Linked DNA regions of Homo sapiens: region 1 is linked to region 2. Evidence: fine-mapped expression QTL. A gene starts in region 2. The other region holds a variant in brackets. All regions are shown on one strand. Distances are from middle to middle.

Evidence for each region. PIP is the estimated chance that this variant, and not a neighbour inherited with it, causes the effect.
Region 1: its variant is fine-mapped to the expression of ASF1A in whole blood (INTERVAL, PIP 0.92).

What each region holds. Positions count from the first base shown.
Region 1 is chr6:119,115,108-119,130,459 of GRCh38, reverse strand. It overlaps a transcript of FAM184A not described here. Among named protein-coding and RNA genes, the nearest start is that of FAM184A, 44 kb to the right of the region's middle. The variant G/A (reference allele first, on the strand shown) is at 3,471.
Region 2 is chr6:118,886,639-118,902,671 of GRCh38, reverse strand. ASF1A (anti-silencing function 1A histone chaperone) reads right to left here and starts at 8,520. Exons shown (of 4, transcript NM_014034.3): 1 at 8,150-8,520; 2 at 1,791-1,906. The coding sequence starts at 8,258. The region is part of intron 8 of MCM9 (minichromosome maintenance 9 homologous recombination repair factor); the gene reads left to right. RefSeq lists silencers at 7,326-7,855, 8,646-8,785 and an enhancer at 8,236-8,325.

The sequences.
Region 1 (15,352 bases), 230 kb before region 2:
GTAACTCCAACTTGTGTCTGTTGGCCAGTGTGCCAGAATGTATTTGATACTATGGAAACATCTGTGTCTAATGGCAATTGAATCTAGGGCATTTATTTCTATTCCCTGAGTCTGGATAAGATCTACAGGAATCTGTCAGTCTTTCATTAAATGCTTATTTCAGAAACAATATACTGTTTTCTGATTTGGGGGCTCCCTAAAATTTCATTTCTGGAGCCGGAAGTCTTCCTCAAATGGTGGTTTTCAGATTTTCCTTGGGCTCTAAGTAAATTATGTGGATTCTGCTTAACAGTTGAAGTTGTTCAACTGGAAAAATATATGACTCATATTCCAAATATTGACATGGAAAAATATATGACTCATACTCCAAATATTGACAATCTCCAAGTATTTCACCTCTATCTTTAAAAAAAAATGTTTAAAACCTTGCGAGCCTCTGTTTGTACATCTTGCTGTGGATGCTAGGAACTTGCAGTGTGTCCCTGCCCCTGGTGGGCTTAAAGTTTATATAATTAAGTAGATTTTTGCCAAAGGCAGATATTCCACCAACCTTTACAATAGAGATTTCTGGGCCACATCCCCAAAGCTTCTGATTTTGTGGATTGGGGGCAAGGGCTGGAAATCTACATATTTCTAAACTCCCCTTCTGTTCAATGTTGCTGTGAACCTAAAATTGCTCTAAAAAATAGTCTTTTATGCAAATAAGTTAAAAAGAAAACAACAATAACAACCCCCCACACACACACACAAAACACAAAAATGAAACCAAAAAACACCCCCCTATTCAGCTCTCTCAAAGTCAGCTCACTTTGAGAACCCCTAGAAATTTCTCTAATTACAGTATTAAGAATGTTAAAGGCTTGTTAGCTCCAATGCCTAATCCCTCTGGTTCCCCCTAGTGGACTGAAATAAAATGCGCTTTCTACAATTTAAGCAGTTAACGAGTGTGAAACCAGATTGAAACACATGTAAAGACTAATTATGAGACGCTTTCAGAAAAAGGCAACATGCATCTCAGTGAAATGCATCTGGGCCCTAAAAGATCAGGAAAGCCCCACCACATCTGCTTCATGGATGGTTTTGCTGTAAGGCGCCCAGGTTAGTTCTCAGTATGTCAGCCACAGGCAGAGCTTTCTCTATGCAATCCTCTGCAGATCACATTTAGGTGTCTCTGCCCAGCCACAGATCCTCAGGAGGTCCTGAGAACATGTGCTCAAAGTGGTTGGGTTACAGCTTGGTTTTCTTACATTTTAGGGGGACAGAAGTTGCAGGCAAAGACATAAATCAATACATGTAAGGTACACATTGGTTCGACCTGGAAAGGTGCGACATCTGGGAGAGAGGGGCTTCCAGGTTATAGGTAGATTCAAAGACTTCCTGATTGGCAATTGGTTGAAAGAGTTGAGTTTTGCCTGAAGAGTTTAAAGTCAGCACAAAGAAATGCTTGAGTTAAGGGAGATTGTGAAGCTAAGGTTCTTATAAATGAAGCCTCCAGGTAGCAGGCTTCAGAGAGAATAGACAGTGTTTTTTATTGGACCTTAAAAGGTGTCAGGCTCTCCGGAAAAAAAAAAACTAGTAAGGGAAGGGGATTCTCTACAGAATGCAAATTCCAGGGCCCCTCCCCCATCCACAGGAGACAGCTTTGCAGGACCATTTCAAAATATGTCAAAGAAATATATTTGGGGGTAAAATACCTTGATTTCCTTCCAGGCCTGCTATCTGCCATGCGATGCTATACCAGAGTCAGGTTAGAATTTGGTATTTTATTGTAACTGGGGGCCTCAGTTTTAAAAATATTTTTAATCACACATTTTCTTTTTCTTCCTTCCCTCCCCACTCACCCTTTTATTCCCTCCCTCTCTAGACACTCCTCTCCAGTAACTCATGTTTATCTAATTATGTTCTTGCTTAAGAAATTTCAGAAGATAATCTTGAAACAAACCAGGCACAGAGCCCCTGCTTAATCATCCTGCTTAGAAGGAGTCTCAAACAATTAGTCCACCACCATCTGGCCCAAGACAAAATAATGCCAAACATACTTCCAGATAGGCAATTACCCAAGATAACCATCAGAACAAACATACAGACCCTTCATCCTGCACTAGTCCCTCACATCTCCCATACCAAGTTTCCCTTTAAAAACCCTATGATAAAATTTTAAAATTTAAGATGGTCTTTGTGACTAGTCCACCATCTTCTTGGTTTTGCGGGCTTTCCAAAGAAGCCTGCTTTTCTTCCCACCAATTCTTGTCTCTCATGTCTGGTTTTCCAGGGGTTAGCAGCCAAACCTGGGTTTGCATACCTTACTGCTACAAAGAGTCTGTTTGTCAGTCTTAAGATCTCTGTTTTAATGTTAATGGTAGTCAGTTGTGCCTAAACTCCAAAGGGAGGAGGTTATAAGGAGGCATGTCTGGCTACTCTACCTCCACCTTCCAGTCATGGCCTGAACTAGTGTTTCAGGTTTCTTTGGGATCTCCTGGGCCAAGCAGGGGGTCCATTTAGTTGGTTGAGGGGCTTAGAATTTTATTTTTGATTTACAACTCTAACATTATCAGTGCTTAACACAGTGTTTGACACAAAGTAGACGGTCAATGAATGTTTGTTGAATGAATGAATGAATGAATGAATGCATGAATGATGGAATGACCTGAAGAACAATTCCACACTGCACATACTCATGCCTCCCTTCTCAACCTTTCTCTCCCCACTCCCAACTGTTATGACATCTTGGGAAGGAAGGAGAAATGCTTGCTTTGAAAAAGCTCCCCAGCTGACTTTAGGGTAGCTGCTTCCCTCCTGCTTTCCTACCTGGTAGGGAATTCCTGATCCATTCGGTTCTCTCAGCTCCAAACCCAGAGAAGTTAAATCATTTGACCGGGATCACATAATTAGATAGTGGCAGGGGCATGTTTCCCAAGTCTTGGGCAAAGTCTCTTTCTATGAGGTTTACCAGCATTGACAGTTACCCAGGATATGTCCTCTCACAATTTGCATGTGTTTAGATATTTTTTCTAAAGAGTAGAAAACAGTCCTAGCTACTCTTTTCCCCTGTCAGATCCTAGGCCCTGCCCTTCCACTGTGGTAGGTAGAATTCTAAGGTGTCCTCCAAGATACCTCACCACCACTAGTGTGCACACACCTTTTCCCAGTTTTTCAATCAAACACTAACCTAGGTGCTACTGTGAAGGGATTTGCAGGTGAAATTTGAGGCCCAAATCAGTTGACCTTAAGATAAGGGTGATAGGGACAGGAGGCAGAGAAATTCTAGGCATAAAAGGGTGGGGTTCCCGGCAAGGGCCCCACCCTCGAGCCTGGAACCACAGCCCAAAGTGAGAACATGCATTCCTGTTTTCCCACTTGAATGTTGCCTTTTTCCAAAACCACCCATGGCCTGTCCCACCCACCATCCTGCACTCATAAAAACCCCTGACCCAGCTGGCAGAGAAAAGGAAACAGCTGAACATTGAGAG[G/A]AGAAGAAACAGCTGGACATCGGGGAGAAGCAGCTTGACTTCAGAGGGATGGCTTGATGATGGGACTTCAGAGTCCGGCCAGAGACAGCCAGACTTCAGGGGAAGAATATTTTTCCACTCCATCCCTTTTCCAGCTCCCCTTCCTGCTGAGAGCCACTTCCATTGGCAATAAAATCCCCCACATTTACTATCCTTAAATTCATTTGTGAGACCTGATTTTTCCTGGATGCCAGACAAGAGCTCGGGGTACAGAAGGCTAACACACTGACCCTCTGCCCGCACAAAAAGGCAGAGGCTTCACTGAGCCTTTAAACACATAAGCTGTCCGTGGACAGCAAAACTAAAAGAGCACTGACTGTTAACACTCCTTCTGGGGCTTCAGGAGTCACAGGTACTCCCCCTCTAGATGTTGCCATGGGGCCTGCACAGAGTTTTGCTCTTGCCGGTGCCCGGAAGCACTCGCCCTGGCTCTTGCACCCACTCAGCTACACTCCCCGTCCCACTAGGGCTGGAGTGCAGTGGATCCAAGCAAGTGAAGCCAGCCAAAGCAGCTAGCTAGCTCCAGTGCCCACAGTCCAGTTCCCACCTGCTGCAAAGGGGTCAGGGAAAATTTCCTGTTTCAGGGAGAACATCTTTGGTGGGCCTGACCTAATCAGATGAGTCCTTAAAGTGACTGGGCTCTTCCTGGAAAGAGAAATTCGAAGCATGAGGGAGATTTCATGCAAAGGAGATTCTCCATTGCTGACTTTTTATGATGAAGGTGCCACATGGTAGGGAACAGTGGGCAGCCCACAGAAGCTGAGAGCAACTCTGTGAGCAAGAAGGTGGCAATCACAGTCCTACAACCACAGGGAACAAGATCCTGCCAACAACCTGAATAACTTTGGATGACCCCAAGCCTCAGATTAGAATCACAGCCCTCGCTGACACCTTAATTTTATTCCTGTGAGACCCTGAACAAGGAACCTAGCTGTGTCATGTCTGGACTTCTAACCTGTAGAACTGTGAGCTAATAAGCTGTTGTTTTAAGCCATTAAATTTATGGTAATTAGTTATGCAGTAATAGAAAATGAATAGACCCTCTACACTGAAACTACAACAGATCATATTCAGGGAAATTTTACAACTCTGAGTGGCTGGAGTGCTACCAGGAAGTCCTCCACTTGCTGGCTTGCTAGTTGCTTCCAACAACTTCTCTGGGCACATACGATGAGCAAGACTCTGGAAACTCCTCACAGAAAGTTGACCTATTGGTCCACTGTATAATTAGATCAACTCTTCTGGGAATGTAAAAGTAGTCTGCCAGTTGTGGCTGCAAAGTTTAGATATGTATATGCCAGAAAACTCATGCTATCCAACAATGGTATGCAAATTGGTGTGTCCGTCTAGGTTTATAACCAACTCTTCAATGAATGTAAAGAAATGAGCTTTAAAATAAGGAAATAACACCTAGCACATTGGGAAGCCAAGGCGGCTAGATCACGAGGTCAGGAGTTCGAGACCAGCCTGGACAACACAGTGAAACCTCATCTCTACTAAAAATACAAAAATTAGCCAGGCATAGTCCCGACCTATAGTCCCAGCTACTCGGGAGGCTGAGGCAGGAGAATCACTTAAACCTGGGAGGCGGAGGTTGCAGTGAGCCAAGCCACGCCATTGCACTCCAGCCTGGGTGACAGAGCAAGACTCCATCTCAAAAAGAAAAAAGAAGGAAATAATATTTTGTTATTGGACTTGCTGAAAGAGATCCAGACAGTAATTATTAACCATACATATGTTGATTGATTAATAAAGCTGTTTGAAGTCATAGACCAGACTTACATACAAATTTTCTGAAAGCTTATTCTAAAAAACTATTAATAGATACAACTGCCTGGATATGAATTAAAATGCCTGAATATCAAGCTACAACAATGTTTATAAAGAATGATTTGTAAATAACACCTTTCAAGGCACTTTCAAAGCGTTAGTAAAAATTAGCTTAATTACAATACATAATACAATATAATAACAGGAGTTCTAGGGAACTGTGGATCCCTGGGATTTTTATGTAAAATCAAGTAAGCACATATGCATTTTCCTGTGGCAAAATGTTTATCTCTCTCATCAGCTACATAACCTCATGAAAGCTAAAAACAAATGTTGTATTATAAAGTTTCTGAGGTTGTATCTACTTGGAATATACAGATTAATAATTGTTACCAAAAGTACTTTAAAGATATAAAAAAAAAAAATTAGGGCCATAGTTTATTTGATCTTCTAATTGGGTGTTTGTTCATGACTTAATGTCTTTTCACGTTTTATTAGATTTGCCAGATGGAAAAAAAGACCTCTACTACCAGGTTGTAACTTCCTTATTATACCCATTATCATTTAGATGAACCCTTTGTAAGCAATGATTTCAGCATGACTCATTTTAACAGCATATAATGGTCTTTTTAATAGAGTATGAGAAGGCTTTTACACCCCCAGGTAAAATTTTATAAATAAATGTAGATTTTTAAAATTATAATTACAATTACTGGCAGAAAGTTAAAGCCAATGGGATAGTTATAATCATTATTGCCTTGATTTAAACATTTAAGAGATGCCTTATAAGTTTCAACATAACTCTACAATTTACATAAAACATTGCCAGTCAATAAAAGTTGTTGAACTTACAAGAAGAATGTTGATACTGTAAAGCTATTTACATAGTTGACATATATAAGAAGTTTTCAAGGCTAAGAACTAGAGTAAGAGCAATGCTGCCAGAATTTAAGTTGTTTGAGGCCAGATAATTAAACCAAATGAAACAAAAGATAAAAATCCTTTGAACTAAAATATTTCTTTAGCTGTCATCTTTAACTGCATAAATACTGATTGGCTAAGACTATGAATAACTGAGAATATTTTAAATTTAAAAAAAGAATAAAATGAGAAATTTCAAAGTGGATATTATAACCAGCAACATAGAGTTCCATAAATAGCAATAGTCACTATGTTTTGGGAGTGTGCAAAGTTGTATCTTGGAGTGTGCTTTGTAAATGTTTGTGTCTGAAGATGTATCTAAACTTGCATTTTACAACTGTAATGTAATGGCACAATCAGCAAATGGCTAACTTCAAATTTAAAATAGAGTAGAGAGGAAACAAATGTTTCTGAATATATTTCTCTACAGTATATAACTGTCCATATTTATTTCTTAAGATTCTGTGACCCAAACACCTATACATACTGCAAATAGCATAAACAGCAATCAACTTGTCAACATAAACAATGGTAAACTAAAAATAAAACTCCAAGCCTCCAACGGACTGAATGGATCATCTCTTTGCCAAGGGGACCCCTGAGTAACGTTGAAAACAGAGTTCTCGGCCCTGATGGGAGCCGGGGTCAGACTCCCTTCCTTGCCAACCATGATTGGGCTTTCTTCCCTAAGGGCCTAACAGAACTCAACACTTTCAAAAGTTAAAGCCAATGGAATAGTTATAATCATTATTGGCTTGATTTAAACATTTAAATCATGTTTAAAATCATGTTACCCCTGACGTGAACCAACCACCCAACACTGCCCCTACTGTTTTTGTTTTTGTTTGTTTGTTTGTTTTTTGGTATTTTTGAGATGGAGTCTCACTCTGTCGCCCAAGGTAGAGTGCAGTGGCATGATCTCGGCTCACTGCAACCTCCACCTCCCAGTTTCAAGTGATTCTCCTGCCTCAGGCTCCCTAGTAGATAGGATTACAGGCCTACACCACCAGGCCCGGCTAATTTTTATATTTTTAGTAGAGATGGGGTTTCACCATGTTGGCCAGGCTGGTCTCAAAATTTCTGACCTCAAGTGATCTGCCCACCTCCACTTCCCAAAGTGCTGGGATTACCGGTGTGAACCATCCCCCCGCCTGCCCCTACTGTTTTGCCTGAGACCACAGACCATGGAGTGGTTCTGGCCAGTCCATGGAGAATGCACAGTAAGGGTTTTCATGTCCTCTGCTTCACTTTGTGACATTAGAGGACTGAAAACTCCACCCTCAGATCACTGCCTTTTTTTTTTTTTTTTTTTTTTTTTTTTTTTTTTTTTTTTTTCAGACAGGGTCTTCCTCCGTTGCTCAGGCTGGAGTACAGTGGCATGATCTCGGCTTACTGCAACCTCCACCTCCCAGGTTCAAGCAGTCCTCCCACCTCAGCCTCCCGAGTAGCTGGGACCCGAGTAGATGCATGCTACCATGCCCAGCTAATTTTTGTATTTTTTGTAGAGCCAGGGTTTTGCCATGTTGCCCAGGTCGGTGTTGAACTCCTGAACTCAAGCAATCCACCCCCTTCAGCCTTCCAAAGTGCTGGGATTACAGGCAGGAGCCACCGCGCCCCTCCCAATGCCATTTTTTGAACATGGAGAAGAAGCAGGAAGCTCAGTTGTGCATGTGCACGTTTCTCCTTTCATAAATATTCATGACTCCTTTTACAGCTTATTGAATATGTATGTTTGACCTCTCTACTTGGCATACATTCCTGTTCCTTTTGCCCTCCTCTGAAGTATCTGTTTCTGGCTTCTGGCCACAGACTATGCTTCCCAGACTGTCAGAAAGGCCACCTTGCTGGCTACAACCCTTTGTAAAAAATAAAGTCTCCTCTTCTACTCTTCTAAATTGATAAATTGTATTTTTTTTAAGTTAACACAGCAGAGGCATAAAAAAGGAGCTTGCTCTTGTTAGACCAACAATATCTGAATTCCTCTAGAAACCCTATTAATGCAAGACATTCCCTTCAGAGGCCTTTTTCCGCTTCTCCCTGACCACTAAGGCTGGAGGTCCAGAATGGAGAGGGCTGTCTCTGTAGTGCTTCTAGAAAGATCTATATCCCCACAGAGAAAGAGCAGTAGCACTCCAAAGAGATGGATTAATTAATTCACTCTGATAGAAAAGAGTTGCACTAAAAAGTTCCAAGCTGGTCATGGTGGCTCCTGCCTGTAATCCCAGCACTTTGGGAGGCCGAGGTGGGAGGACTGCTTGAGGCCAGGAGTTTGAGACCACCCTGGCCAACAACTGCATCTCTATAAAAATAAATAAGTAAAGAAACAAACAAGTAAATAAATAAAATAAAAAGTTACCAAGAGTCTACATAGAAAGGATAATAAATAGGGCCAAATTATGTTAAGCACTGTGTCACTTATCTTGGTAAAGCAGCGTTCAATACTGTTCTTTTTAACTGACAGTTCAGATCTTCATGCCTTTTTAAGAAATCACTTTGCCTTATTCTCAAACCACTTAGCCTCCTAAACTATTTAGCATGAAGCCGGATATAAGTGATATAGCTGATGGGTTAATTTACACTTAAATACCAAATAATCACTCAACTGACAGCAAATATCTTAGATGTCCTCATTAGAATGTCAGTGCTGCTAAAATATTTATAAATAAGAAAAGATGCCACTTCAAATTTGCTGACATCATTAAGTTTTGTTAATTTCTGGATTATGCAATTTCAGGGACTATTTAAAATTAACGGAAATGGCACTCAAACTAAAACTCTCATACTGCTTATGGATTTAATTTTCCTTAAAAAAGAATTTTAAAAGGCCAGGCACGGTGGCTCACGCCTATAATCCCAACAATTTGGGAGGCCCAGGTGGGCTGACTGCTTGAGCTCAAGAGTTTGAGACCAGCCTGGGCAACATGGCAAAACCCTATCTTTATTCTACAAAAAATACAAAAATTAGCCAGGTATGATGACATGCACCTGTAGGCCCAGCTACTTGGAAGGCTGAGGTGGGAGGATCTCTTGAGCCCAGGAGGTTGAGGCTAAAGTGAGCCATGATCTTGCCACTGCACTCCAGCCTGAGTGACAGAGTGAGACCCTGTCTCAAAACAAATGAAAAACTTTCCTATTAAAAATATAATACAGGGCTAGGTGTGGTGGCTCACACCTATAATCCCAGTACTTTGAGTGGCCAATGTGGGAGGATTACTGGAGGCCAGGAGTTCAACAGCAGTCTGGGCATCATATCAAGACTTCATCTCTACAAAAAAAAAAAGAAAGTTTTTCAGATGCAGTGGTACCTGCATACAGTCCTAGCTACACAGGAGTTTGAGGCAGGATGAGCATGCCACTGCACTCCAGCCTGGGCAACAGAACAAGACCCTGTCTCCTAAAAAAAAAAAAAAAGAAAGAAAGAAAGAAAGAAAGGAAGAAAGAAAGAAAGAAAGAGAAAAACCATCACTTTATTTTAGTCCATAAAATTGAGTGAAAAAAAAAAGTAATACATTTCTCCACTCAAATAGAAACAGCTCTGCCACTAGATCCTATTTCACACCCATTAGGATGGCTGTATTTAATAAGACAGACCATAGTAAGTGTTGATGAGGATATGGAGAAATTTGAACCCTCATACGTTGTTAGCGGGATTGTAAAATAGTACAGCCACTTTAGAAAACAGTTGGGAGTTCCTTAAAATGTGAAACATAGAGTTACCATATGACACAGCAACTCCACCTCTGTGTATATACTCAAGAGAACCGAAAACATTTGTCCACACATTTGAACACTAATACTGATGGCAGCATAATAGCCCCAAAGTAGAAAAAACTCAAAGGTCCATCAACTGAAGGACAGTGTCTATACAATATGTAGTGTGTCTATACAATGGAGTATTATCTGGCCATAAAGAGGAATGAATATAGATACGTACTAAAACATGGATAAACCTTGAAAACATTATGTTTCCTGAAAGATACAGAATACCATATATTGTATGATGTCACTTCTATCAAATGTCCACCACAGGCAAATCCGTAGAGAAAGTAGATTAGTGGTTGCCAGGGGCTGGGAAGAACAAGCGGATTATGAGTAACAGCAAATGGGTGCAGGGTTTCTTTTTGCAGTGATGCAACCTTCTAAAATTAGATGCTGGTGATGCTTGCACAATTCTGTGAATATGCTAAAAACAACTGACTGTGAACTGTATACTTTAGAAGAGTGAATTTTAGGGTACGTGAATTATGTCTCAATAAGACTATTATTATTATCATTTGGGGCAGGGTCTTGCTGTGTCACCCATGCTGTGCTGCAGCGGCACAATCATGGCTCACTGCAGCCTCGACCTCCTGGGCTCAAGCAATCCTCTCAACTCAGCCTCCTGGGACTACAGGCATAAACCACCATGCCCTACGAATTTTTATTTTTTATTTTTTTATTTTTTTGTATTTTGTAGAGACAGAATCTCACCATCTTGCTCAGGCCAGTCTTGAACTCCTGGACTCAAGTAATCCTCCTGCCTCTGTCTCCCAAAGTGCTGGGTTTACAGGCATGAGCCACGACACCTAGCCTCAATATAGCTATTACTTTTTTTAAAAAGGCAAAAACTGATGACATGTTGGAGAAGTTTTTTCCAGTCTCTTTTTTTCTTAATTTTATAGTTGTGGTTATTTTGTGTTCATATACTAACAATTTTTAAAGTATGCCATCTTATTACAAACTCATTATCAGGGGAACCTGCCCCCGATTTCACATGGGTTCTTTTCTATTTTCCCTAAGCACTGGCCGGTTTGAGAAATAAAGGGACAGAGTACAAAAGAGAGAAATTTTAAAGCTGGGTGTCCGGGGGAGACTTCACATGTCGGTAGTTTCTGTGATGCCCCCTGAGCTGTAAAACCAGCAAGTTTTTATTAGTGATTTTCAAAAGAGGAGGGAGCGTACGAATAGGGTGTGGGTCACAGAGATCACGTGCTTCACAAGGTAATACACTATCACAAGGCAAATGGAGGCAGGGCGAGATCGCAGGACCACAGGACCGGGGCGAAATTAAAATTGCTAATGAAGTTTTGGCACGCATTGTCATTGATAACATCTTATCGGGAGACAGGGTTTGACAGCAGACAACCAGTCTGACCAAAATTTATTAGGCGGGAATTTCCTCATCCTAATAAGCCTGGGGGCGCTATGGGAGACTGGGGCTTATTTCATCCCTACAGTTTCGACCATAGAAGACAGCCGCACCCAAGGGGGCCGTTTCAGAGGCCTACCCTTAGGGATGCATTCTCTTTCTCAGGGATGTTCCTTGCTGAGAAAAAGAATTCAGCGATATTTCTCCCATTTGCTTTTGAAAGAAGAGAAATATGGCTCTGTTCTGCCCAGCTCACTGGCGGTCAGTTTAAGGTTACCTCTCTTGTTCCCTGAACACTGCTGTTATCTTGTTTTTTTTTCAAGGTGCCCAGATTTCATATTGTTCAGACACATATGCTCTACAAACAATTTGTGCTGTTAACGCAATCATCACAGGGTCCTGAGATGACATACATCCTCCTCAGCTTACGAAAATGATGGGATTAGGAGATTAAAGTAAAGATAGGCATAGGAAATCACAAGGGTATTGATTGGGGAAGTGATAAGTGTCCATGAAATCTTCACAATTTATGTTCAGAGATTGCAGTAAAGACAGGCGTAAGAAATTATAAAAATATTAATTTGGGGATCTAATAAATGTCAATGAAATCTTCACAATTCATGTTCTTCCACCATGGCTTCAGCCAGTCCCTCTGTTTGGGGTCCCTGACTTCCCGCAACAACTCATGAGAAACATAATAGCTTTATAAACTCTGTTGAGATCATTTCCCACAATAATAAAGGTAACTATTATTGAGTGTTTAATATGAGCTAAGTATTATTCTAAGCCCTTTATATATATTGTCTTATTTAATACTGACAACAACTTTAGGAGATCAGTGATTTTTATGCTCACATTTTACATAGGAAGAAATGAATGTTAAATTAATTTTATAGCTAGTGAATGGTGGAGCCAGTGTACTGTTTTACATTCACTCCAGTTTTTCATTATTATAAAAAATAAGAATTATCCTTGATTGTGGAAGACCAAACTTCTGCATCTATGGAAAGGTCCTGGCTTAATTAATAACTGCAGGTCAGAGCTTCCCATGCCCCAAAGGCCATATACAGCAATCCAGAAAGCAAAGTTTCTGCCTTAAAATCTGAGTGATCTTTGGTGTCACTTCATCTCTTCTTGACCCTCTGGGTGATCCAGAATTTAGACCCTGCCTCCAGCTCTCTGGTCCCTGACTGCTTCTCTCCTGTAACTGAGTCCCTGACTGGTCCTGCTTCTGGGATACCCCCACCCCTGCCTGTTTCTCTCAACCCTTGGCTGGCTAAACTTGCACTAAAAGGCAGACTCCACACACCTAGCTAAACTTTCAGGTCCTACAAATCCTCAACCAATTAAATTAATCACTAAAAAGGAGGGTTCAAGTCCTCCATTTCTAACCATGTGAACTAGAGAAGCAACCTCTTTGAGTCTGTTTTGTTATCTGTAAAAAATGATAATCCTACTGTATACTTCACAGGGTTGTTTTGAGGTTCACCTAAGATAAAGTACTTCATAAACCGTGAAGGTACGTAAGAAGCAGGTCTTACCTCTGAGTCGCAGGCATGTTCAAAGCAATGGGGCCTCTGACAGCAGCAACAGAACTGATATAGCCTCTCAAGGTGACCACAGTGGAAGAGGCCGCCTGGGTTAGGGTCCGATTATACATTGCTGTACTCAAATGTATTGTGTGGCAGTATGGCCTACTGACAACTTTAAGTACGAAAAGGACTAGCCAGGAAGCCCTGCCAGGGCATTGCTAATTGAACATTCTCTACATGGATCTCACTATTTCTTCTTCCCTCTTCCCTGTTTCCTAGCCTAGTTAAGGGCACCACTATGTACATGGTCACCAAAATCAGAAATCTGTTGATCATTCCTGATTCCCAGTAGTCCAAGTTAAAATCCCAAGAGTTTGTTTCTCACTCTCTCTCACCCTTACACACAAAATGATCCACAGACTTGTCTCCCAAATCTATGCCCACTCCCAATCCCCTAGCCTTGGTTAATGTCCTCCTAGCCTCCAAACTCGATGATTGCAATCGTGTCCCCTGCTGGTCGCACCTGGTAGTTCTACTTGGTCACTCACCAATTCTCCTGAGACCTGAATAATATTTCTAAAATGCAGATACTATCCTGTCTGGGAGGCTTTCCTGTTTTCCAAAGGATAAAGTCAAAACATTTAGAATGCCATACAGAGCTCATCTCACATACACACACTTCCTCCCCAGGGTCCTCTTCTGGCCTCTGCTTCCTCTCCAGATGCCCCTTACTCTTTACAAAGGGACTGTGGATTGTTTTCAGAATACACTATGCACTTTCATATATCTGTGATTTTCCAAATACTGTTCCCTAAGCCTGAAAATTCCTCCTGTCCTCCTTAATCCTTCTCTGCTTTGAGAGAGTCTTCTTCCCTTTGAGATCCAGTCAATGCCAGTTTTATGAAGTCTTCCACAGGCAGCTGGACACTCATTTCTCTGGACTTGCACAGCACTGTGGACATTTATCGCCTTGTAATGTTTTTATTGATTCACCTGCTTTTCTCCTCCACTAGACTGGGATTTGTAATAAAGAGCCTGAGTCTATTTTTTATGTCTGACTACTGAAAGTTTTCTTTTTTAAAAACAGGTTTCAACTTATTGTAGATTAAGGGTACACATGCAGATTTGTTATATGGGTAAACTGTGTGACACTGAGGCTTGAGGTCCCAACGATCCTGTCGTTCAGGTCATAGGCATAGTACCCAACATGGGGTCCTTTAGCCCATGCCCCCCTCCCTCCCTCATCTAGTGATCCCCAGTGGCTATTGTTCCCATCTTTATGATCATGTGTACTTAGTGTTTAGCTCCCACTTATAAATGAGGACATGCGGTATCTGGTTTTTTGCCTTTGTGTTAGATCACTTAGGATAATGGACTACTGGAAGTTTTCAAGCCCACCAGTCCCTTTTCCCCTTCTGCCCCCACCTCTGAGCAAGCCATTACAAAAAGCCATGCTCTCTCTCCTTTGGAGCTGATAGGAAATTCAAACCCTCAACAGGGAAACCCTCACTGTGGCCCCATCTCCTAACCACCATAAAGCCCCAAGACAGTCTCTAGTCCCTGCTCTCTCTCTCTCTCGTTGTGTGTGTGTATGTGTGTGTGTGTGTGTGTGTGTGTGTGTGTGTGTGTTTGAGACGGAGTCTTTCTCTGTCACCCAGGCTGGAGTGCAGTGGCGCCATCTCAGCTCACTGCAACCTCCACCTCCTGGGTTCAAGTGATTCTCCTGCCTCAGCCTCCCGAGTAGCTGGGACTACAAGCGTGTGCCACCATACCAGGCTATTTTTTTTTTTTGTATTTTTAGTAGAGATGGGGTTTCACCATGTTGGTCAGGCTGGTCTCAAACTCCTGACCTCAGGTGATCCACCTGCCTCAGCCTCCCAAAGTACTGAGACTACAGGCATGAGCCACCACACCCTGCCATATACCCTGCTCTCTTAAGCCATTTGAACCAGCTTGGGAAACTTGACCTGCTGTACTCAGAAAGCCTCATTATGTAAGTAACAAACCTTTCATAACTTCTTGATGTATGTGTGGCATCATCAGTCTTTTAAAATTATTTTTTATTTTTTAATTAGAGACAGGATCTCACTATTTTGCCCATGGTGGTCTCGAGCTCCTGGTCTCAAGCTATCCTCCTGCCTTGGCCTCCCAAAGTGCCAGGTTTACGGGCATGAGCCACCTCGCCCAGTCACATCATCAGTCTTGACATCTGAATCAAGTTCCGGATGGGGGTCTATCCTACTTCTGCAGGGTGATCAGAACAGAATTATTAGGCATATGAGCCGTATCTTATTTATTTCCCTTTCCTCTGTGCCTAAAATAAAATAATTAATAAATGGTTATTGAATGAACTATATTTAAATATTGTTGGAATATGAAAATTCAATTTTATTTGAGCTGTGGAATAAACAGTTTCTTTGTGACCAGTTTAAATATGGTTGATGGAAAAATGAAGACCATCAGAAATATTTTGGAAGAAGACAAATTTATAA
Region 2 (16,033 bases):
ATACATTTTTTTTGCTACAGCACTTTCAGCCAAAAGCTTAGGAGTATGCTTAATAACAAACACAAAAGATTTTCAAGGGTTTGTTTCAATAACAAGGCATTTATTTGTAAGTTCTTATAGTAGCCAAAAAAAAAAAAAAAAAAGTATTATCAGTACCTGTCAACCCAGGTTTCTTTTACTGTATCATGAATTATCAGTAAAGTATGGGTTCCTTAGGCCTGTGGGTCAGAGCAAGTCCTGCTTTTTTATATAACAATTTCAAGAAGTTAAGAGAATAAAAATGTAGTTCTAATTTTAGGAATAGGGCACTCTTTATGAGTGACTGATTATACTGTTTTATTCCCCATAACATTTTAATGAGATAGAATATTATCCACATTTTATAGAAGACTGGAATGACTAAGGGAGGAGGTTAGAGAGGTAAAGCCACACATGGCTAATACAGAGGTGTCGGGATTTGACCTATATCTATAACTGCAGTGCTTCCTTCTACAGAACAGGGCATTCTGTTACCCATGTCTTTTACATGGTTATGCACTCACACAACTTTGATTAACAGCACTTTTAATTCATATATTTGATTAGTATATTTGAGCTTTTCTTAGCTATTTCTTTAGATACAGTAAATTATTTGTTGCTTTTTAATCAAAAGTACTAAGGCTAGGAAACCAAGATTCTAAATTCTGTATTTAGGACAGGGGAGGGAAAGGTAGCAGCTCTAGAGATGGCATGTGTCTAAGTGATTCTTTGCCAGTTTCTGATGGGATTATTTGACCAATGGTATTCATTTAAATTGGTCCCATCTGTGAAGTGAGAAAACAGAGGTCAGGCATAGGAAGAGTTAGATTTTCTTTCTGGATTAAGTCTTTTCAGTGAGTTCCACTTAACTGATGGGACATTGCTGGGTTGAAATACTTGTAACAGAAATTAATAGTAGTTTTAAAAAACCTATGGCTAGTTACTCTTTGGTCTATTACAAACATCTCCCTTATAAATAAGCATGCATAATTGAGGAATAACTGAATGGTTCCATATAGCAATTTAACATGGATTAAAAGAAATAACACTTTTGAATATAGAAGACAATGTCTGAAGCCTTGGTATAGATCCAAATACTCTCAGTGGTATCTAAGAACAAAATTTTTATTACTAGAAATTCTCTTCACAAATACCTAGTGGGGTAGTAAATTTGCAAAAGTAGTCCTCTTATAAGATAATGTAGATTATAAGATGCTTTAGTAAACTCTGGAATGTCATTCCAATGACCCAAGACCACACATCTCTATCCACTAAACGTATCTGTTAACCTAGCTCAACTACTGATTATGCTGAAATAAAGTTGTTTTTGTTACATCACCATCAGTTCCAGTGGCTGAAACCATAAACTGAAGATGCATATTACTAACAATGCCAGTTAGTTTTAGATATTTTGAATCCATGTTTTGGGTTGCTAGACAGCCACCTTGGAAGTCTGATACTGAGGTGCTATTCACAGGAAGAGCCCCAAATTCACCACCCTGTGTGCCATGATACAGTATAAAATTTACTGTAGGTTGTTCATCTCTCTAAAGTAAACGTCACATTAACATCTCTCAGCATATAAAACCAGGAAGTAAGAGTTCCTCTGTGACACAGAGACTGCCTAAAACATGATGGAAACAGATTTAAAGTGAATGCAGCAGAAGCAGTTCTTTAACCCAAAAGGAAAGGGATAAGGGTTATAAGATAATAGATAATATAGTCTACTTCGAAACATATTTGGCATACACATTTACCAAGATTAATCTTACCTGAAATACAAACATATGCCTTCCTGCGGGAACAGGACCCACTAAAACAGAGTCTAAAACTTGATCGTATTCTTCACTTTCTGCAGAGCCCACATAGATAATTTTCCATTCCAAGTCTAGGGTTAAAAAACCAAAGCATTATTTCATATTCAGTAATTACATTACCAGATGACATCAAAGACCCTTTTAATGTCCACTTAGCCACTTACTGGCTTTAAAATTGGCTTCTCATAGCAATCCAGAAAGGCAGTGAAATGCTCCTTATAAAGTTCCTACCAGAGTTCACACTTTGATCAGAGTTTCTCAAAATACTCTTTTGTGAAACACTAGTTCCTGGACAGTGCCTCACAAACAAGATAACATAGCCAAACACTTGGGAAATGCTGTAAACCTTGTCTTGAGGATTCATAAAGCATGCTGGCACAGTAAGTTTTCTGAGATATCCTTCAGTAAAGAACACCAGTAACATTAATCCAGCACTTCCCAAATTTATTTGGCTATGGAATCCCCCTTTTTTTGTATATCATCTTTTAAGGCCCTTCTCAACACACTTTGGAAGGGCAGCCCTATACTACGCTGCAGAGATCCAAATAATCACAGAGCTCCAAAGTAGAAAAATTATTAGTAAAACCTCCCTCATGGCTCAGAAGTAAGTGGCTTCAGCTCATCAACTGTCAACGAACAATGGTAGGGTTTTTCCCTTACGGCACCCCCCTGTGTCATACATTCTTTAAATTGGGCAGAGGAAACCAAGATCTTTACACCACGTGATACAATAGAGTATACACAGTGGAGATAGGCAGGAGGAAAAGACATTCAGGTGCAATTCAAGGCGTTATATGTAATTCAATATAGCGGATTTTACTGAGCATGTTTTACAATGTGTTCTGTGAAGTGAACCCAGAGATGAGTAGAACTCTTTGGAGGAGTCTCCTGTTTAGCTGAGGAAGAAGATAACTTTGTAATACAAACCATCTCTGAGAGACCTCTTCATCTTCTTTGGGTATTTTGCACTGTGTGGCCTGCCTCTTGCATTCAACACACTGTTACACAAGCACTCCCAAAGGGTGAGTTTCTGGGTCACTCATGACAATCTAGTTAGTGCCACCATGTGTGGCCATTTTTGTGTAACTGTAGATATTTTTGTTCCCTAAATTGATAATAGAAATAGTAACGTACTGCTTATTTATATTGTATTGTAAACTACAATCAACTGAAAGCTCCTTTTTTATTTTCTCTTATTAAGTCAGCAATCATTTTCTGAGGACCTATTATGTCATGGCTCTGTCCTAGAACTAAACCATTTCTATTTCCAGCTTCCAGCACACTTCCAGATGCAGGGTGCTGCATCTGACATCTCCTGAGATCATCTGTTGATGGAGATAGAGAGGAAGTAGGCAATATAAGTATCTCGCCAGAGGGAACAGCAAATACAAAGGCCCAGGGGTAGGGCACACTTGGCAAGAAAAAGCAAGGAGGCTAGGGCTGGAGCAGAATGAAAGGAAGGAGGAAAGCACCAAACCCTATGATTGAGGATGAGGGGAACAGCCAGATCATGCGGTTTTGAAGGCCATCATAAGGACTCTGGCTTTCACACTGCGTGGCATGGGAAGCCATCGAAGGGTTTTGAGCAGAGCAGTAACAGGAGCCAACTTTCATTTTAAAAGGAATGCTTTGATTGCTGTGTTCAATATAGAGTGTAAGAGGACAAGGGAAGAAACAATATTTCAATAATTGAGGCAAGAAATTATGGTGGCATGGACCTCGTGTGGCCATGGGGCTGTGCAACAGTTATATTCTGGATAAAATCCTGAAGATGAAAGCAGCAGGAGCCACTTTTGCAGGGAGGTGATGTGGGGTAGGGGAGCAATCAGGAGTTCATTTTAGACATATTTGAGATGTCTGCTTCTAAGCAGAGATACTGAATAGGCAGGATAAAAATTTGGAACCTGTCAATGATATGTAAAGCCATAAAAATACATGGGCTTGCTCTAGGGAGTGAGATTTGAGCCCTCCAAAGATAAGAGGACAAATTAAGTTACAAAACAAGTGGCAAATGAGGTAGGTGACCCAAAAGCCAAGTGAAGAAACTGTTTTAAGAAAGTGATGTGAAAGGTACTAAACTAGCCAAGTGAGGATAAGACTAAGAATTATCACATAGAGTGGCTGGGCGCAGTGGCTCACGCCTGTAATCCCAGCATTGTGGGAGGCTAAGGTGGCTGGATGGCTTGAGGTCAGGAGTTCGAGACCAGCCTGGCAAACATGGTGAAACCCCATCTCTACTAAAAGTACAAAAATTAGGGGTGGCACATGCCTGTGGTCCCAGCTACTCGGGAGGCTGAGGCACAAGAATCGCCTGAACCCTGGAGGCGGAGGTTGCAGTGAGCCGAGATCGCGCCACTGCACTCCAGCCTGGGCAATGGAACGAGATTGTCTCCAAAAAAAAAAAAAAAAAATTATTACATAAAGGTTTTCATGAATTTTAATTTCATATATAATTGTATCACTACATATAATGCCCTTGATCCTAAGTGGTATAAATTCGCATTTGTGGACTGGCATAGGAACATAGCCATAATTTATAAACCTATTTTAGAAAATACCTACTATATACTGGGCATTAGTTCTACTTCATACCTATTGTTTAAACCTCAACAGCTTCATCATGTAGATCAAATTATCCCCATTATGCAAATAACTTGAGACTCTGAGAGGTTAAGTAATCTACACAAATTCATAATTTGTACATCAAAGAATCAGAATCCAAGCTATGCCTCTGTAACTACAAACCCCGGGCTTCTTCTGAAAACCTAACTGGGAAGATAAATTCTTTCTAGCTCTGAAATTAGCAGTGGAATAAGGGAATTTATTTGCAGGGGAAGTGAGAGCAGAGGAGATGGAGAGAGAATCTAGCCTTAACAAGAACAGGCTGCAACTCAGGGAACACTTGTACATTGATTTTTATGTTTATGGGATGCTTGCTACAGTTGCTGAGTTTTACATGCTCAATACCCTTTTATACATTGGCATCAGTTTTTTTGTTGTTTTTTTTTTTAACCCAGCTTTCATTTAATTCCTCTGCCCCCTGTATTTGAGGGAGGAAGGGTAAGGTCAGATGTTTTACATAAGTTCTCAGGTGAAGAAATTTGTTCATTTATTTTAAAGTTAACTTTTATTTAATCACAGTAATCATGATTAAATGATTTACCCAGCCTGAAAGTATTTACATTTGTGGTGAAAGAGTGAGTGAATGAGGGAAGTCATCAAGAGAATTTTTAGCTAATTACACTACTTGGGAAGACCTGTGGTCTAGTGGAAAGTATGTAGGCTTTGGAATTAGAACAAGCTGAAGTTGGAAAGTATGAAGCACCATGCTCAATTCTGGTATATTATAAGTATTCAATTGACAGTAGCTGTAATTAAGATATATATATATATAAATTTAAGAATGGCAGGATGGTCAATCAAAACTTGTACAGTCTTGGTGACCATCAAGCACATCCAGCCAGGGTCTCAGGCTGTCTTAACCCTTGATATAAGCCCTATATTAGAAAGAACCAAATTATCTTAAGACCAAATATTCCTCAAGGCTTTTTCTGAAGCAAAGCTACAGGGCAGCTCTTAAAGGAAAGTGAACGTTTGGGGCTACTGATGAAAGTATGAAAAACGGTGGCCAAACTCTGCTTTGAGACTTGAGGCAAAATAACTTATTAAGAAAATTCTTTTCAAAATATTCTATAGTTTGGGCTGGGTGCAGTGGGCTCACTATAATCACAACACTATGGGAGGCAGGGGTGGGAGGACTGCTTGAGCCCAGGGGTTCGAGACCAGCTTGGGCAACATGGCAAAACTCCGTCTCTACAAAAAATTAAAAAATTAGCCCAATGTGGTGGCACATCGACTATGGTCCCAGCTATTCAGGAGGCTAAGGTGGGAGGATTGCTTAAGCCCAGGTTGAGGCTGCAGGGAGCAGCTGTGTTTGCACCACTGTACTCCATCCAGCCTGAGTGCCAGAGCAACACTGTCTCATTTAAAAAAAAAAAAATTCTATAGTTTAATTTTAAGAACAGAATTTTTAAAAGAACTGTAATATAAAAGTATGGAACCTATTAGAAGCCTTTGCTAAGTAAAAATTTCCTTAATCCACATAGCCTCTAGGTGGAGTATACAGGCATGGCACCTTTTTGAAAGATTCCTTTGCAGCTTCAGTATGACTCAGCTTAAAATATTTTTTAAAATACTAAATAAATGCTCAGTAATGGTGCCTAGGAAGTGAAATATACCATTGGAAATAAGTATGTTTTTGACACCAGTACTGTAAATCCCTGATGTGATTCAGCTGGGTTCTGAATGGATCCCAGTTAAAAATGGAACGTTTTGGCTTTATGAATGGCTGGTTTCATCTATGCAATGTAAAAGCCCTGTAACGACATCCTGAGTCATCTATCTTCTTTGTTCAGAGCTGACTCCTAAAATGGAAGGCAACACTTGAGAAATACCTGTAATTTGAAGAACTTCTGGTGGTATATCTGAAAAACAGTGTGGTATAAGTTGGAATGGACCGATCAATGGTTTTTCTTTTGTCTATTTTTATATGCAGTTGGCAATAAAAAAAAAATTACTGTTGGGTGTGAAAAATGGGCCTGGTAGCTGCAATGCTTATATTAATAGTAGTATCATAGGAGAGTAATCAAATGACTTCAGAGTAATAAGAAAAATACCCCTTAGTGTTATCAATGGCCTATTTGAAATTATTTTAATAAATGAATCATCTTTCAAAATTTGCCCTATATATGTATGTGCATTTATGCTCTATATAGGTTTAAAAAAAAAAAAAAAACGGGGGCACATGTTAAAGTAATAATTGTGATTACCGAAAGGAGATAGGGCAAGGCACTGAGTACAGAGAACTGTTAACTTTATATATGCCTGTACAACTTTCTAAAAGTTTATTACAATGAATATATATTGTTTTATAATTAAAATTAACCTTACATATGATATATACATTTTAGAGATTAAAAACTAGTTTTTAAAATGAAAAGTTTTACATGCCACGATTACCTAAATCATCTTCAATGCATTTTTTACATATACTTCTAGTTCAAAGTATGTCCCTCATCGATGAAGTTAAACTATTTCCCCTTCAAAACTGGCAAATGAAGCACTGAATTACTTTAGTAAAAGATAATTAAAGCAAAGATAATTGTCGTTTTAGCTTTCTAAATATTTATTACTAAAGATATTAAAAATACGTATTTTTAAGACCTTAAAATATATGTAGAAAAAATACCAAGAATTCTTGGACTGACATGAGGAGTTGACCTTAATTTCCTAGCCTACGTTTGTGTTTTATGTTTAGGGTGTGTTCTGTATTTGGATGTGGAGTTATTTTAGATTTCAACACGGTCTTGAAGAAAGTCTTCCTTCAGACTATTTATAAGGCAGAGATTAAGTCCTGGAAATTATTTAAGTATCTTATTTCTGCTTTTAGGTTAAATGTAACTTCCTACCTCAGCTCTATTTCTCTTCCTGAAATTAGCTTTTCGTCATTAGGGGAAAGGAGTCCACGTTGGTTGGGGAGCCTGCGCGCCAGCATCCCGGCGCATCCCGGGCGCCGGCCGAGGAGGACCGGCCGAACAGGACCCACGGCCCCCGGGGAGCGCCGGCGCCCAGCCCGCGGCGCGGAGGGGCCGAGCCTGCGCCCGCCTCCCCCGCTGGTTGGTCGAGGAAGCCAGAAATCAGCGCGAGGACAGCCTCGCTCTCCTCCCCGAAGCGGCCAGGCATGGCCAGCCCGGAGAGTGCGGCGACTCCACCGTGAGCTCTCGAGAGTGCCTGCCTGCCTTTCGCCGGGGGCAGGCGGGCGGCGGGGCAAGAGGAGGCGCCGTGCGCCGGGGTCGCTGGCCCAATTCTCGACTCGGGGTAAGATGGCTCCGCTCCGAACTCGCCGGCGCGACCACACGCACAGCCTCTCCCTTCCCAGCCTCCGTGCTCGGGCCCGGAGGGTCGCGGAGGCTGTTGGCGGCGCGGAGCCAGCCCGGCGCGACCTCAGGCGGCGCAGCGGGAGCGAGTGCGGGTCTCCGAGCTGCCCGCCCGCAGACAAAGCTGACAACATGGCTACCTCCGCTCCTCCGCTCAAACAAGTTCCTCGCAAGTTGAGCCCGGCAGGCGCCTGGGCTGCGGCGGAAAGCCGCGCGCGCCTCGGCGGCCGTCGTCCATCAACTTCAAGTTTCCCTCCGCAGAGCAGCCCGCGGCCGCCAGGCGCCGAACACAGCCGCCCAGCGCGAGGCCCGGCCCGGGAAACTTTCAACGTCTGCAGCCCGCAACTGACAGCCCGGGCGCACGGGCGCCGCACTCACCTTCAGACAGGTCCTCGATGCACTCGAAGGTGATCTCGAACTGGAACGGGTTGTAGAAAGGAGAAGGGTTATCCAGCACCACTACATTGTTCACCTGAACCTTTGCCATATTTTGAAAAAAACACAAACAATGGGAACTGGGGCTGGTTGCGGCACAATAAAGTCCAGCGCGCGGCCGCTCGGGAGAGCGCAGACCCCCGCTCCAGCGCCGGCCAGACGTCGTGCAGCGGCGACTTGAGAAACTTTTTTCCTCTTTTTATTTACACGGGAGCACTCCACAGTGTTTTGCAGCTTTCCTATTTCACTAAACTACAGCCCATTCTGCTCTGATAAGTAGCAGCGTTGCCCTCGATTGGCTGCACCCGAGTTCTGACCCTCCTCCTCCAGCGAGGGCCTCGGCAGCCAGCAAGATGGGCTCCCGCTCCCGGAATGGACTCGGAAACTTTAACTGCGGCTCCACCTGCTGGTGTGGATTAGGACAAAGGCGGAGAACAAAGTGAGTGGAATAAGGGCTGGGAGGCCCGCGCGGAGGCCGCCGGCGGCGGCGCGGAGAGGGGCGGAGGGGGCGTGGCCGCGGCGGGGAGGCGTGGCTGCGGCGGGAGGGCGCGATCCGGCCGACGCCCGCCCCTCCAGTTGGCTTCGTGTGGGTGTTTTGGCGTTTTTTTGTTTTTTTTTTTGTTTTTTTGGTTTTTTGATTTAACGCTCTTTTTACATCAGTGCAACAGCTTTGCCGGCCTTGCTGAATTTAGCAGATGAGAGTCGGTGTTTACACTGGGTTAGGTTCAGCTTTCTGCGTATCGGGTAGTATTTGGAGTAGAGAGAAAGATTGGCTGCAGGGGAAATAAATTGCATGTTATAGACCGATGTCAGCTCGAAAGGAGCAAAGCCATTTTGGAAATCTAGCTCTTGGCCAGTATCTACGTTTAGGCACGACAGCGCCGTTAAGCAACACAAAATGAAGGGCGAGGAATGATTTTCTACACACTGTGCTTGGAAAATTTAAATAGGTAACCTTTGGGCTTGCACCTGGGCGTCTTCTTCGGAGTCCAGATCTGGGAAGTCCTAGAATAAAAAAAAATCACAAGAGGTGTGATCAGTTATACTTCAGGTTACTGCCATTTGGAGAGCATAGCAGGAACATAAAAGGAGAAAATGGAAGTGTTAGGAGACCAACAGGGCAACAAACGTAATAGAGATGGGAAAAAGAACACAAAGACATAGCAAGACATTTGATCTTCAAAAAAATTTCTGACCTAAACCGTTAGTAAAGCAAATTCTGAGGAGCCCTTGCTTGCCTGTAACCAGTTGAGGTCTGAACTGAGGAAATGTTGATTCGTTTATGCTGCTTGGCTACCATTGCGGGGAAAGAGAAAGCTTTAACATATTTGTGAGCCTAAACCGTTTCTATTTAGTAAGTGGTATAAAGGTTTGTTTTATTATCTGCTAGCCATAAACCATCATTTTTTTCCTTAAATGTTGTGAATGAAACCACCAAACTTGGCCAAATTCAGAGAGAAAATTAATTCTTAAGTATGTGTTCTGGAAGAGTTTTCTCTTAGTATAGTGCCCAGAATTTTGATTTGTCATTCTTTGGTCATTGTTCATACTTAAGTAGGTGGCTTTTGATGAAACGTTTTCATCTGATGGTCTTTTGAAAGTTAATGTGAGACAGCTAATGTCAACCCCTCGTACATTTAGGAAAACCGGTTAGAGTGGGGAAGAGTTCCCTTTTTTTGTCAGTGGATTGAACAGTTAGATATAGGACCTACCAAAAAACACTTCTTCAAGCCAGTTGTTTGTGACATTAGAGTATTAAGAGTCAAACCATGGTGATAGACACAGATTTTTGTGGCTGATAAACAACATACTCTTCATTCTTATTAGTGCTGGTCCTAACACTAGCAGATAAAGTGGAAATTGCTGTATGCTGTAAGACACTCTGTATATGTAAGATAAAATGACCATTTGAAGATTAAAACTCCTGTGAGACTGGTGTATGCAGTTGTCTGATTATTACAGGTACTCTTAAGAGGAGAGTCTAGTCAGTCTCATGAAAACGACATTTTATGCTTGTTAAAATCACGTGCATTTTGCAGTCTGACCGTAAGTGTTACAATGAGACTAGTTGTAAAACTCACTTTTGGTGGATGTGCAGCATGAAGGACTGAGAAGATCTACCTGAATGCCACTAATTTGGCTTATTTTCTTTAAAATTTTTTGTTTAACACATCATATGCAACAGTATTTAAGAAGAAAAAACTCCCCAACATTTCACTGGAAGCTGCAAGAATTAGCTCCAGGCTTCTCCTGTCTTAACTCTTGTATTATTGCTTGTCAGAAATACTAAAGGGTCGTTGAGCACTTTGTTCAATAGTTTCCTCACCATTGATACTACCTTACTCCAGGAGAGACCGAAAGGATTCCTCAGATATGTCCTGGCATATTTCTAATTTAACTGGTATGCTGTAGGAAAAAAAGAATTGTGAAAGCCTCTCTCTGGTTTCAGAGGCAATCAGTAGGACTTGTTGCTGAACAACTTTGGTGACTCCCAAACATCTAATTGTACAACAGATGGGTCACTGTGAATGTCTTTATTAAGTACCCAAGGGGGTCCCACATAATGTTTGGAGGGCTGCATGGAATGTAATCCCCCAATCACTTCTCACTATGGGTTACTTGGGGGAAGGATGGCTGAGAGAGATTTTATCGGCTCTAAGATGAACAGAACAAAGCCTAAACTAGTGCTTAGGGCAGAAATACATGAAACTAGTTAGTTGTTGTTTTAGACTGAATTATGTCTCCCCCAAATTCGTATGTTGAAGCACTAATCCCTAGTACCTCAGAATGTGACTGTATTTGGAGATTAAGTTAAATGAGGTGATTGGGGTGGGCCCTAATCTAATCTAGCTGGCGTCCTCACAAGGGGAAATTTAGATTTACAGAGAAGCACAAGGGTCACACGCACACAGAGGAAACACAGCAAAAAGGTGGCCATTTGCAAGCCAAGCAAAGAGGCTTTAGAATAAACCAAACCTGCCAACACCTTGATCTTGGATTTCTAGCTTCCAGAACTGTGAGAAAGTAAATTTCTATTGTTTAAGCCACCCAGTGAGTGATATTTTGTTATGGCAGCTCTAACAACCTAATATAGCTATAAGATATTTTTCCCCTCAGAATTAAGCTTATTTGAGCATCTAATCTTACTGAATCCAAATATTGGTCAGTTCCCAAGCACTTCCTGTGGGTGAAATGATGTGGTCCTTTAGCCATGCCAGTAAGGGTGTGGCGTATGTGGAGTGGTGTGCTGTTGCCATTCTTCAGAGGAAGTATATACCACTGGGCATATAGCTTGAATTCTGAAGACACAAGATGCAGCTTACTTGCATGGATTCAAGACTCCTCTACAGAGAAGTGAAACTTGAAGTCAAATTGAGGTCATACACAAAACAAGATGAAAGAGCGAATTCAAATATACTAAAATTGAATTAAATCAAAATGTGCCAAATTAAAATACATTAGAACTAGGAATTAAATTGAGTGTCAGCCCGTGTCTACTGCAAAAGTTATCATAGGAATGGAAGTACTAACCTCTAGCTTTTGTTCAAATCTAGATTTCCACCTCGGGTAATCACTGTGTTGAATTGTCTTCTCATTTGTATTATTACCAACTTAAAAAAATTCCTCATGTAAGGCTTGTTTTAATATGGTCTTTAGTTAGTTTAAGAGGCTCCTTTTTATTTATTAGAAATAGGATGTCAAAATTTAATGATAGTTTTAAATAAAATTTTCTGTATAAATATAGACTAGAGATTTGATGGAGTTCATAGACATTTCTAAATGGAGTAAATTGTACAATAATGATTTCAATAATAATTCATTACATACATACAGAGAGCATTTGTTATGTGAAATTTTTATGCTAGGCTCTGTGAGAAATAGTCAAAGATAAGACATACAAAGACCTTATGGTTCAGTAGGAAAGGTAACTAATCAAATAAGTATGATGCGAAATAGAAAGTGTTAGATGCACCTGTAACCAGTTATGTTAAAATAGGCAAAAGAAAAAATGTTTTCTTGACAATTTGTAAAAAACTTTAAAATACCTGTTTTTGAGCCTCACAAACAGGAATGGCAGGAGGGTAAGATATCATCCCATATAACAAATGAGGATGCTGCTGCTCAGAAACCCATTCCTCTGATGGCTGTCCTAGTACCTTTGTACTCTCTACCATGTCAAGTAAATTTTAAAGTGGGCTTTGTATGTAGAAAAAATAGATTGGTATCATTTTCTGGAAGAACCCACAGGCTGGCGGACACTCCAGTAATGACTTGATTAATGAACTCTTGAGGAACAAAGCTCCATTAATGAGGTTGGTCCAGGTGTATACTGGGAGAGAGAAGGAGACCCAGCCAAGGCAAAGCTGGGGGAGGCTCCCCACGGGGTACTACAGATGTCAAGCCTCCTGTTGAAAAAGGCATCCCTTGGAAGGTGTGGGGGATGGAGCTACACATCCTGGAATGCATCCTTATACTTTTTATAAGGTTTCCATGTCTGTTACATAGCGTACCCTCTCCCCTTCTCTGCTCCACGTCATTAATAAAAGTTTCACTGTTTTGTGTTCTTTTCTACCCATCATTGTGTTAGAAGTTTGTTGAAGGTATAAGCTATATCTGATCCCTTATCCATAGCTGGACTATACTGTAAAACACCTTTTGCATAGCCATAGGTTACATCAGTCAGCTTTCTGAAGCACTGTAATTACATTTATTGACAGTTTCTTGGTGTGTATATCATTATGTTGTTTTTGACCATTTTGAAGGGAAATGCCTAATAATTATTTTCTGTTTCTTATACCTAGTTTTTTGTCTGTGTCTTCTTAGTCCTCTTATCAATCAAGGTCTTTCTAAACTCGTTTCCTCTTGAACTCAAGTCTCTACTTGCAGTCCATCTTCCTTCATGTTTTATAATATATTCCATCCTTTTCTCTCTAACCCTCTACTGCTCTCATTCATCAGAGGTTCACTTTTTAATACCAGGAAAAAAAACAGTAATCGGTAGAGAGGACTCAAATCTTTAAAACATCTCTAGGCTAGACCACTGCTCGTACAAAGCCATTACTAAGCATAGCAGCTTTTCTAGTTGGTTACTATAGAGACAAATGACATTAGATGGAGTGACGCTTGGCAGAAGCTAGGCATGTAGGCTTTGTGAGATTGGAGGCCTCATATGCATGGTCATTTAGAAAGAGTCAAAAACCAGAAAGGATAGGGAGGGGAAATGCTTCACAAATGAGCTAATAGGTAATTAATTGGTAGAAATTTGGTTGGTAGAATTTGTGCCTGATAAGGCTTTGAATCCGGCATGCAAAGAATCCACCTCTAAGTACCCCCTGGTATGATTACACAGTAATATTTTTCAGGTAACAGCTTTGTTGAGATAGAATTCACATAACATGTAATTCACTCATTTGAAGCATCTGAGTCAATAGTTTTTAGAATATTCAGAGGTGTGCAACCATCATCACAATCAATTTTAGAGTATTTTCATGATCTCAAAAAGAAGCTTTGTAGCCTTTAGCACATCCCCCTCCCCAGCATATCCCCCAAGCAGTAGGCAAGCACTGAATTACTTTTTGTCTCTATAGTTTTGCCTATTCTAGACATTTCATATAAACGGAATCTTATAATATGTAGTCTTTTATGACCAGCATCTTTGAAGCATAATGTTTTTGATGCTTCTTTCATGTTGTGTTATATATTGATGCTTTATTCCTTTTTATTACCCAATAATTTTCCATTGTATAGGTATACCACGTTTTATTTATCTGTCAGTTGATGGACATCTAGGTGGTTTCTACTTTTTGGCTATTACACAAAATGCTGCTATTAACATATGTGTACAAATTTTTGCATGGGATGGGACAAATGTTTTCATTTTTCTAGGTTTATGCTTAGGAGTGGAATTGCTGGGTAAGATATTGTAACTCCTTTTTAGGAGCTACCAGACTGGTTTTCTGTTTGTTTGTCTGTTTGTTTTGAGACGAGTCTCACTCTGTCACCCAGGCTGGAGTGCAGTGGCGTGATCTCGGCTCACTGCAAGCTCTGCCTCCCAGGTTCACACCATTCTCCTGCCTTAGCCTCCCGAGTAGCTGGGACTACAGGCGCCCGCCACCACACCCGGCTAATTTTTTTGTATTTTTAGTAGAGACGGGGTTTTACGGTGTTAGCCAGGATGGTCTCGATCTACTGACCTTGTGATCCGCCCACCTCTGCCTCCCAAAGTGCTGGGATTACAGGCATGAGCCACCATGCCCGGCCACCAGACTGTTTTTTAAAGCAGGTGTACCATTTTACATTCCCACCAGCATTCTAATTTCTCCACATTCCCACCAACACTTGCTGTTCTGTCTTTTTGATTATAGCCATGGTGGTGTGTGACATAGTATCTCATTGTGGTTTTGGTCTATATTTCCCTGATGGCTAAAGATGTTAAGCATCTTTCATATGCTTATTGGCCCTATGTATATCTTCTGTGGAGAACTGTCCATTCAGATCCTTAACCACTCCCTTCACCCCTTTTTTAAAAAATACAGACGGAGTCTCACTCTGTTGCCCTGGCTGGACTTGAACTCCTGGGCTCAAGTGATCTTCCCACCTCAACCTCCTGAGTAGATGGAACTACAGGAGCATGCCACCATGCCAGCTCTTTGCCTATTTTGAAAATTGGGTCATCTGTCTTTTTATCATTGAGTTGTAAGAGTTCCTTATGTGTTCTACATACAGGTCTTTTGTCAAACACATGATTTGCAAGAAGTTTCTCTAGTTGTTTGGATTATCTTTTAATTTTCTTGGTGGTGTCCTTTGCAGTGTAAAAGCTTTTAATTTTGATGATGCCCATTTAATCTATTTTCGTTATGTTGGATTGTGCTTTTGATGTCATTTCTCAAAAACCATTGCCTAATCCAGCGTCATGAGGATTTACACCTGAGTTTTCTTCTAAGAGTTTTATTCTTTTAGCACCTTACATTTGGGTCTTTGATCAAGTTTGAATTAATTTTTGTATATGGTGTGAAGGGGTCCAAATTCATACTTTTGCATGTGCTTGTCCAGTTTCCCAGCAGCATCTGTTGAAAAGACTATTTTCCTAATGAATTGGCTTGGAACCTTTCTCAGAATGAATTGACCTTAAATGTATGGGTCTATTTCTGGACAATCAATTCTGTTCTGTTGATCTGTGTCCTTATACTACTGCTACATTGTCTTGATGACCTTAGGTTTGTGTAGTATGTTTTGAAAGCAGGAAGTGTGAGTCCTCCAACCTTGTTCTTTTTTTTCAATATTGGCTATTTTGCATCCCTTGAATTTTCATATGAATTTTAGGATCACTCTATCAATTCTGCAAAGAAGCCACCTGGGATTGTGATAGGGATTGCATTGAATCTATACATCCCTTTGGGGAGTACTGCCATCTTCATGATGCTGCCTTCCAATCAGTAAACATGAGTTCGCCTTTAATTTCTTTGAGTAATGTTTTGTAGTTTTCCTTCTTTCTTTTTTTGAGATAGGATCTTGCTCTGTTTTTTAGGCTGGAGCACAGTGGCACAATGATAGCTCACTGCAGCCTTGAACTTCTGGGCTCAGGCGATCCCCCAACGTCAGCCTCCAGAGTAGCTAGGACTACAGGTGTGTGTGTGTGTGCCACCACATCCGGCTAATTTTTTGAAATTTTTCATAGAGACTAGGGTCTCACTGTGTCGCCCAAGCTGGTCTCAAACTCCTGGCCTCAAGCCACCCTCCCACTTCAGCCTCTTGAAGTGCTGAGATTACAGCGTGAGCCACTACACCTGGCCTGTTGTTTTCATAGTATAAGCTTTGTACATTCTT